Regions from separate parts of the Homo sapiens genome. Here region 1 is linked to region 2. The links come from fine-mapping of genetic effects on gene expression. A gene starts in region 2. The other region holds a variant in brackets. All regions are shown on one strand. Distances are between the middles of the regions. Region 1 has its middle 19 kb from the start of OR56B1. Region 2 holds the start of OR52N4 (olfactory receptor family 52 subfamily N member 4).

What was found. PIP is the estimated chance that this variant, and not a neighbour inherited with it, causes the effect.
Region 1: its variant is fine-mapped to the expression of OR52N4 in stomach (GTEx, PIP 0.94).

Annotation. Positions count from the first base shown.
Region 1 is chr11:5,714,942-5,720,335 of GRCh38, forward strand. It overlaps the pseudogene OR52U1P. Among named protein-coding and RNA genes, the nearest start is that of OR56B1, 19 kb to the right of the region's middle. The variant T/C (reference allele first, on the strand shown) is at 2,518.
Region 2 is chr11:5,751,048-5,756,441 of GRCh38, forward strand. OR52N4 (olfactory receptor family 52 subfamily N member 4) reads left to right here and starts at 3,196. Exons shown (of 2, transcript NM_001005175.5): 1 at 3,196-3,258; 2 at 3,646-4,911. The coding sequence starts at 3,694. The coding sequence ends at 4,659.

The DNA.
Region 1 (5,394 bases), 36 kb before region 2:
AAACTATTCCAATCAATAGAAAAAGAGGGAAACCTCCCTAACTCATTTTATGAGGCCAGCATCATGCTGATACCAAAGCCGGGCAGAGACACAACCAAAAAAGAGAATTTTAGACCAATATCCTTGATGAACATTGATGTAAATATCCTCAATAAAATACTGGCAAACCGAATCCAGCAGCACATCAAAAAGCTTATACACCATGACTGAGTGGGCTTCATCCCTGGGATGCAAGGCTGGTTCAATATATGCAAATCAGTAAATGTAATCCAGCATATAAACAGAACCAAAGACAAAAACCACATGATTATCTCAATAGATGCAGAAAAGGCCTTTGACAAAATTCAACAACCTTCATGCTAAAAACTCTCAATAAATTAGGTATTGATGGGTCGTATCTCAAAATAATAAGAGCTATGTATGACAAACCCACAGCCAATATCATACTGAATGGGTAAAAACTGGAAGCATTCCCTTTGAAAACTGGCACAAGACAGGGATGCCCTCTCTCACCACTCCTATTCAACATATTGTTGGAAGTTCTGGTCAGGGCAATTAGGCAGGAAAAGGAAATAAAGGGTATTCAATTAGGAAAAGAGGAAGTCAAATTGTCCCTGTTTGCAGATGACATGATTGTATATCTAGAAAACCCCACTGTCTCAGCCCAAAATCTCCTTAAGCTGATAAGCAACTTCAGTAAAGTCTCAGGATACAAAATCAATGTACAAAAATCACAAGCATTCTTATACACCAACGACAGACAAACAGAGAGCCAAATCATGAGTGAACTCCCATTCACAATTGCTTCAAAGAGAATAAAATACTTAGGAATCCAACTTACAAGGGACATGAAGGACCTCTTCAAGGAGAACTACAAAACACTGCCCAATGAAATAAAAGAGGACACAAACAAATGGAAGAACATTCCATGCTCATGGGTAGGAAGAATCAATATTGTGACAATGGCCATACTGCCCAAAGTAATTTATAGATTCAATGCCATCCCCATCAAGCTACCAATGACTTTCTTCACAGAATTGGAAAAAACTACTTTAAAGTTCATATGGAACCAAAAAAGAGCCCACATCGCCAAGTCTCAATCCTAAGCCAAAAGAACAAAGCTGGAAGCATCACGCTACCTGATTTCAAACTATACTACAAGGCTACAGTAACCAAAACAGCATGGTACTGGTACCAAAACAGAGATATAGACCAATGGAACAGAACAGAGCCCTCAGAAATAACGCCACATATCTGCAACTATCTGATCTTTGACAAACCTGAGAAAAACAAGCAATGGGGAAAGGATTCCCTATTTAATAAATGGTGCTGGGAAAACTGGCTAGACAGATGTAGAAAGCTGAAACTGGATCCCTTCCTTACACCTTATACAAAAATCAATTCAAGATGGATTAAAGACTTAAACGTTAGACCTAAAACCATAAAAACCCTAGAAGAAAACCTAGGCAGTACCATTCAGGACATAGGCATGGGCAAGGACTTCATGTCTAAAACACCAAAAGCAATGGCAACAAAAGCCAAAATTGACAAATGGGATCTAATTAAACTAAAGAGCTTCTGCACAGCAAAAGAAACTACCATCAGAGTGAACAGGCAACCTACAAAATGGGAGAAAATTTTTGCAACCTACTCATCTGACAAAGGGCTAATATCCAGAATCTACAATGAACTCAAACAAATTTACAAGAAAAAAACAAACAACCCCATTAAAAAGTGGGCGAAGGACATGAACAGGCACTTCTCAAAAGAAGACATTTATGCAGCCAAAAAACACATGAAAAAATTGCTCACCATCACTGGCCATCAGAGAAATGCAAATCAAAACCACAATGAGATACCATCTCACACCAGTGAGAATGGCAATCATTAAAAAGTCAGGAAACAACAGGTGCTGGAGAGGATGTGGAGAAACAGGAACACTTTTACACTGTTGGTAAACAGTACTGAAACAGTAGTTTACAGTACTGTTTACAGTAGTAAACAGTACTGAAACAGTAGTTTACGGTACTGAACTGTAAACTAGTTCAACCATTGTGGAAGTCAGTGTGGCGATTCCTCAGGGATCTAGAACTAGAAATACCATTTGACCCAGCCATCCCATTACTGGGTATATACCCAAATGACTATAAATCATGCTGCTATAAAGACACATGCACACATATGTTTATTGCGGCACTATTCACAACAGCAAAGACTTGGAACCAAGCCAAATGTCCAACAATGATAGACTGGATTAAGCAAATGTGGCACATCTACACCATGGAATACTATGCAGCCATAAAAAATGATGAGTTCATGTCCTTTGTAGGGACATGGATGAAATTGGAAATCATCATTCTCAGTAAACTATCGCAAGGACAAAAAACCAAACACCGCATATTCTCACTCATAGGTGGGAATTGAACAACGAAAACACATGGACACAGGAAGGGGAACATCACACTCTGGGGACTGTTGTGGGGTGGGGGGAGGGGGGAGGGATAGCATTAGGTGATA[T/C]ACCTAATGCTAAATGACGAGTTAGTGGGTGCAGCACACCAGCATGGCACATGTATACATATGTAACTAACCTGCACATTGTGCACATGTACCCTAAAATTTAAAGTATAATAATAATAAAAAAAAATAAAAATTGGATTGTTTTCTTTTTACAGAAAAAAAAAAGAATGCCAAAACTGCTAGTCCCCAATCTAGTTATCAGATTCAACTTTGTTTTAAAAATAAATTTTATTGTGTATATTTAAGGTATACAACACGATGTTATAACATATCTATATCTGTAGTATATATATGTTCCACTGTAGTGGAACAAATTAACATATTCATCATCTCACATAGTTATCCATTTTTCCTCATGTAGCGAAAGCAGCTACAATCTACTCATTCAACAAAAATCCTGATACAATATACTGTTATTAACTATAGTGCCCATGTTGTACATTAGGTGTTTTGACTTGTTCATTCTGCATGTTTGCTATTTTGTATCTTTTGACTAATATCTCTATTTCCTCTCTGTGACCCCGACCCTGGTAATCGTTTTATTCTCTATATGTTTGACCCCCCGTTTTTCCAAATTTCACATGTAAGTGAGGTCATGTGGTATTTGTCTCTCTGTGATGGGCTTATTTAATTCAGTATCATCTCCTCCGGGTCCATTTATGTTACGTCAAATGGCAGGATATCCTCCTTTTTTAAGCCTGAACAATATTCGCATTCTACATATACTCCACAGTTTGCTTATTTATCCATCCATCCATTGATTCAGTTTTATCTTCACCCTCTCTCTCTTCAAACTCCTCCAAGATTGGCAAAGTCTGGAACATTTCCTGAATTCCTAAGACTAATTATCCTCATCTCTTGGGAGCTCAGGCAACCTCCAGGGTCAGTTTTACACATAATAATAGTTGTGCCTTGTCTTTTGGGAGGTGGAAGGTTGGGGTTGGCAGAAGTAAGCAAAGAGCTAATGCTGGGCACCCTGAGGGCCTTTACTTAGGTTACTTAAAAGACCACACCGTGGATTCTGGGTGCCCAGAAGTGAAGTATGGAGAGATGCAAGGCCACGGGTGTGCTCTCCAAGAGTCATATGGGTGTTTAAGATATACCTACATACCTATGTACACACTCACACATACACATTCTCAGAATGTGTCTGGGACCAGCTGCCTATCCTCTCACTGCCTCTCTTTCAGGTAAGTGTTCTTGATGAGGGTGGGCTTTATGTTCATATTCTGGTGAGCCTCAGCTGTCCAGCACCCCATTGCCCACTTCATTCTTCATCATCATTGCACCATTCTCATCAATAAGGTTCCCACTCCCTCATATCCTGTATCTGCTGAAAATGTGTATTCTTTAATTTTTGGATGCATAATTCTACTATAAGCTTTTAAGTCATCTTAATTAAAAAAAAATCTGTTGTGTTGAATACATTTCATCTTTTGGTTTCCGAAAGGAGTATATTGCATTTTGTCAGCTCCTCTTTGTATGCCATGCATTTTTGCTGTACATACTTCAAGTTCTGTTCTTTAAGTTGATACATGTTTATTTCTTAATATATTAAAATTTATTTAATATTTTATTAATAATGAATCATTTTGTCCTTAATAAAAACATTTAGCATAAAATATATCCTCTTGGATATGAATGAAGTTATACTTCATTATTGCTACTGTACTATTACAACTATACCCTATGATACATAGCGTCATGATTTCAGAATCATTTGTGTGTATAACATTTCGATCTTTGTTTTCCATGTTGAAGCTCTTTTTTTAAATTGAAGCTCATGTAGCCTCTTTGTTGTTCTCCACAAGTACTTCGGCAGGGTGCCACCATGACTGCTTGCAATGCCTCACAGGGCCACCCTTCTTTCTTCATTCTCCAAGGAATTCCTGGCATGGAGGACAAACACAGATGGATATCTATCCCCTTCTCCTCCATGTATTTCGTTATGGTGCTTGGGAACTGCACCATCCTCCTCACCATCTCCACAGAGCGCTCCCTGCACAAACCCATGTTCCTGCTCCTCTGTCTGTTGGCCCTCACAGACCTGGGCATGTCTACAACCACCATTCCCAAGGTGCTGTGCATTTTCTGGTTTGGCCAGAGTGAGATCAGCTATGAAGGATGCCTGGTTCAGCTGTTCTTCATCCACTCCATCTCTGCCATGCAGTCAGCTGTCCTGATGACCATGGCCTTTGACCACTATGTGGCCATCTGCAAGCCCTTGCGCTATGCCACCATCCTTTCCAATAGTTGCACTGGACTCATTGGCTTAGTGAGTTTGGTGAGAGCTATCCTCTTTATTCTCCCCATGCCCATCCTCCTTCAGCAAATGCCCTATCATGCCAATCGTGTCATCCCCACCACCTCCTGTGAGCACATGGCTGTGGTGAAGATGGTTTGTGTAGATACTACAGTCAACAGGATATATGGCCTGGTGGTGGCCTTGTTGGTTGCTGGCTGGATCTCTCAGCTATTGCTTCATCTTATGTGCTAATCATCCAGGCTATAATGCATCTCTCTTCTAAGGAAGCCCACCACAAAGCAGTCAACACCTGCACCACACACATCTGTGTCATGCTTATTTCTTATACTCCCTCACTTTTCTCTTTTCTCGCTCACCGCTTTGGCCAAGGCATTCCACCCCATGTCCACATCATTCTTGGCAACCTTTACTTCCTTGTACCTCCAATGCTCAGTCCTATAATTTATGGAGTGAAAACTAAGGAGTTCTGGGACAAAGTGACCAAATAGGGTTGCTGGAAAGAAGAACCCACAACCACTGACCATGGTCAGAAACTTGTCTGGTAATCCAGCAGCTGTGAGTATGAGGAAGGAATGTTAAGTAGATGCAATTCCTGGGGGAATCAGCTAGTG
Region 2 (5,394 bases):
AACAATTTGGTACAATTACCTTTAATTACACAATGCTAAGCGTTTTGTCTTCTCAAAGTGATCTTGACTTGAGTGTTTTAGCTTTGAATTCTTTTTTCTAGTATTAGTATATCCTAAGTATGAGGTATACTGTTTATCTAAAAATATTATGTTTGTATATATTTTTAAACCTTTGTGTATAATTTTCATTCTGATGAAATCTTATACTGCATATATAATTTTTAAAAATTAGTTGGAATTATTTCAACTTGATGGGAAGTTTAAATTATTTTTATATCCAAAACCAATGTTTGTTCTGCCTTTGTCATCTTTTTTTTTCCACTTTGTATTCTCTGTTTCTCTACTTTATGAGAGAGATGCCTTATGTTGTTTAGCTTTTCTAGTAATCTTAAGTAAAACTTTCTCTTTTTTTTCCTTCTAGTGGTTTCTTTTATACATTCCAAGTAATATTAGGTTGGTGCAAAAGGAATTGTGGCTTTGCCATTACTTTTAATGGTAAAAACCGCAATTATGTTTGCACCAATCTAATAATACTTAGATTATAATTTAATAATTATCAAAATAAAGTGTTTCGGGTGAGTCATTCACTTTTTCATTTACTTATTTGTTTATTTATTTTAAAATTGACATTTATTGAGTATCTAATATGAGAGATTTGATTTGCTCGGCTCTGAGGATGCTTTACCAGACACTGTCCTTACATCGGTGATTTCACTGAATTTTGGAGAATTCCTAAATATAAGTTGATTTTCATAATATCATGAGGGAAATATTATTAAAGAGAATAATTGTTTGAACAAATCAATTTCTTACCCCTAGTCAAGGCTATTGGTAGCTACATTATCTTAAAATAATTTAAAGGATGGGTCGCTATCATGTCCAAAGGACATTTGAGACCTCCTGATGATGGTTCTGCTTGAAGAATGTATAGGGATTAGCTACATTTGAGGGGAGTGGGCAAAGGGAGCACCAAGGAGATAGAGGTTTGCCTATCACAAAGCTGAGAATGTCAGTGCGATATGAGTAGGAAACAGCAAACAGCAACAGAAGAAAATGCTGTTCCTACCACTTTGACCTGTCAGAATTCTAATCATGCTCCAGGTCTGGAAGCATCTGTCCTCTTCTCTAGGAGCATCTCCTGAGGCTAGGTTAGACACACAGGTGCTCCTATGACACCCAGTATAACTCTGACATTTTGTAATGACTTGAGTACATATCTTTGAGGAGCATGCCTATTAACAAGTTTAACCTGTGTTTTTCTACTATTTTCAAAACAAGTTGCCTTTTGATAAATCTGATCTGTCCTCTTCATCTTACCCAATAAGGCAGAACATGTGACTGTACTTCCTATCAGATGCTAATCTTAAAACAGTGTATTTTATTAATGGAGGTTAGGATGAATACCTCCTCTGATGGGGCACAAAAGAGAGTTCATTTGGTGGCACTCATGATTCCTATGGTGTTAATTTTTGTAAGCATTGCCAAAATGGCTGCCAGCCTGAGTAGAAAATACAAATATGGGTATTGAGCACTTAAAATGTGGTAGCATGTTTTAACATATTACGTCCTTTAATCCTCTTGGCAATTTAATTTTTGTTATTATAAATTCTAACATACATATGCAATTTTACAATTAATCCAATTACATGTTGATTGATTTTTACAACCTGAATCTTGTATATCTCACAACCAAATCAAGTAAGGGAATATGACCAGCAACTAACAGGACCCTTCTACCACATACTGCCTTTCAGTTATCACTCTCTCTCACTTTTTAAAAAGATTTTTCTATTTCTAATAGCACAGAATAATTTGATCCGTTTTTGTATTTCATTTAAAGATCACAAGATGTTACATCTATTTTAAGTCTTTCTAAAAAAAATTAACACATATTGTGAGATTCGTCTATATTATGCATATAGTCATAGATTGTTTATTCTTATTGTTACGTGGTATTTCATTGTGGGAATGTACCAAAATTTATTTACCCATTTGATGTTGATGAACATTTAGGTTTTTTCCAGTTTTAGGCTATACTACAAATCATGTTTCAATAAGCATTCTAATTGATGTATTCTAGTAAATATATATACATAGTTTTGTTGGAAATGGCAATGGTGGTCATGTGTATGTTTATCATTATGAGATATCTAATAAAGAGTTGTTCTAATTTACATGTCTACCAGCAGTAAATGAGAGTTCCAGTTGTTCTACATCTTTGCCAATGCTTGGTATTTTTAGTTCTTTTCATTTTAGCTGTCCTGTTTGGTATGTCACTACATACCAAAAAAAGGTGCTTTGTCATGAGAGATACAATTTTTACTTATTTTTCTGATTAATATAAAAGTTTGTGCCTATTTACCTGTTCATTGGCAATTTTATTTCTCTTTTGAAGTGTATGTTTCTTCCTGCAACTTTTTCTTACTGATGTTGTTGAAGTACTTTATATATTTTCTGTATGTATGCATTTGGATATCTTCTAGTTTGCGTTGACTAGATACATAAAGAACAAGAAAGATATCTTGAAAAGTGAAAAAATTGAATCAAAACTTCATTGACTTTTTTAATTTTAAATTTTTGTGGGCACATAGTAGGTGTATATATTTATGGGTGTATGAGATATTTTGATAGAAGCATACAATGTGTAATAATCCCTTTTAAAGGGCCGGGCACAGTGGCTCATGCCTGTAATCCCAGCACTTTGGGAGCCTGATGTGGGTGGATTACCTGAGGTCAGGAGTTGGAGACCAACCTGACCAATATAGTGAAACCCCATCTCTGCTAAAAATACAAAAATTAGCTGGGCGTGGTGGCATGTGCCTGTAGTCGCAGCTACTCGGGAGGCTAAGACAGGAGAATTGCTTGAATCCGGGAGGTGGAGGTTGCAGCCAAGATTGCGCCACTGCACTCCAGCCTGGGCAACAAAGCAAGACTCTGCCTCAAAAAAAAAAAAAAAAAAAAAAAAAAATCCCAGTAAAGTAAATAGGGGTATCCATCATCTCAAACATTTATCCTTTGTGTTACAGACAACCCAATTATATTATTTTAGTTATTTTAAAATATACAATTAAATTATTATTGAGTATAGACACCCAATAAATTTACTAATTTTTGAGACCCCAAGCTTCATTGAGTAATAATTTAATTAAAATTTCAAAATTCTTTGAACAGTGCCTGAGTACCCAAGAATAAATATCAGTCAGTCATTAAGAATAAAAATTAAAAAGTCAACATCTCATCTCTCAGATCATCAGTGAGGTAATCAAATGACTCTTCTTTAAAATTATATCTATATTGAGATGAGTATAGTTATAGTTAAGTAAGATATTCTAATAAAAATACCATTTGAAAAGTCAGAATTATACTTGATTATAAATCTATGAGATTGGGAATATGTCTTTTTATAAAATAATTGATGTTTGATTGGCATCTGTGTTGAAAACTTAGACTGCTCAATAAGAATTTTTTACTGAATCAATTAATTAATCAATCAATAAAACTAAACAGACAAACAAAATTATTTCTTGGCACTCAGAAATTTGGTTGTTGGACCATTAAAATGCATTATGGAATTTTTAAAAGTTGGGGGAGAGGGAGACAGTAAAAATAACCTATATTTTCTCTTGTTTTTTTTTTTAACTCTAGGAAAGCCCAGACAAATTTTGAGCTATTTCATAACCTACCAGACTTATCATGCTAACACTGAATAAAACAGACCTAATACCAGCTTCATTTATTCTGAATGGAGTCCCAGGACTGGAAGACACACAACTCTGGATTTCCTTCCCATTCTGCTCTATGTATGTTGTGGCTATGGTAGGGAATTGTGGACTCCTCTACCTCATTCACTATGAGGATGCCCTGCACAAACCCATGTACTACTTCTTGGCCATGCTTTCCTTTACTGACCTTGTTATGTGCTCTAGTACAATCCCTAAAGCCCTCTGCATCTTCTGGTTTCATCTCAAGGACATTGGATTTGATGAATGCCTTGTCCAGATGTTCTTCACCCACACCTTCACAGGGATGGAGTCTGGGGTGCTTATGCTTATGGCCCTGGATCGCTATGTGGCCATCTGCTACCCCTTACGCTATTCAACTATCCTCACCAATCCTGTAATTGCAAAGGTTGGGACTGCCACCTTCCTGAGAGGGGTATTACTCATTATTCCCTTTACTTTCCTCACCAAGCTCCTGCCCTACTGCAGAGGCAATATACTTCCCCATACCTACTGTGACCACATGTCTGTAGCCAAATTGTCCTGTGGTAATGTCAAGGTCAATGCCATCTATGGTCTGATGGTTGCCCTCCTGATTTGGGGCTTTGACATACTGTGTATCACCAACTCCTATACCATGATTCTCCGGGCAGTGGTCAGCCTCTCCTCAGCAGATGCTCGGCAGAAGGCCTTTAATACCTGCACTGCCCACATTTGTGCCATTGTTTTCTCCTATACTCCAGCTTTCTTCTCCTTCTTTTCCCACCGCTTTGGGGAACACATAATCCCCCCTTCTTGCCACATCATTGTAGCCAATATTTATCTGCTCCTACCACCCACTATGAACCCTATTGTCTATGGGGTGAAAACCAAACAGATACGAGACTGTGTCATAAGGATCCTTTCAGGTTCTAAGGATACCAAATCCTACAGCATGTGAATGAACACTTGCCAGGAGTGAGAAGAGAAGGAAAGAATTACTTCTATTTGCCTCTTATGCAGGAGTTCATAAAATCTTTCTGGAAGCACTGTATTGATCACAAAATGGAGTTTGTTAACTGGTGCATTCTCAATAAGTACCTTGGGAATCTCAACATCATTGGAAGGCCCACCAACATTTCTATAAATTTTTTACCTTCTCACTCATGTGAAGGACCAGTCTAATAATTAAACCATATTTTATTCGACAAAACCTAATGAGTCCATTTTTTATGAAAAGACAAATCTAAGTAGAAGGAGATGATGTGAGTCTTCTTTTCAATGATCACAATTTTCAGATTAATATTTCAGATTAATAGCCAGTTATTACTTTTGTCTAGAAAACATGTGCTATATATTTCTCATAACTACCAAAAACCTGTTTCTTCAATGACATTTTCCTGAAGGAGAATCTAGAGTGCATGCCATAAAGTCTAAAATGAGTTTTAAGTCTCTAAGCATCTAGCTAAAATATTATTAGGCTGAATAGGTCACATAATTATTTCACAACAGAATAATTGGATATTTCGTTTTCTTTAAAGGGGCTTTTTAAAAAGCACAGAGCCTGGAAAGAGAGGTAGAGATCTTAACCAAAAATAAAAAACAGTATAATTTTTTTCTAAGACCTGTATGAAAGGGGATCAAAATCTACTTGTTTCATTTTATCTCTAATTGTGAATCTAATAAGGAAAATTAG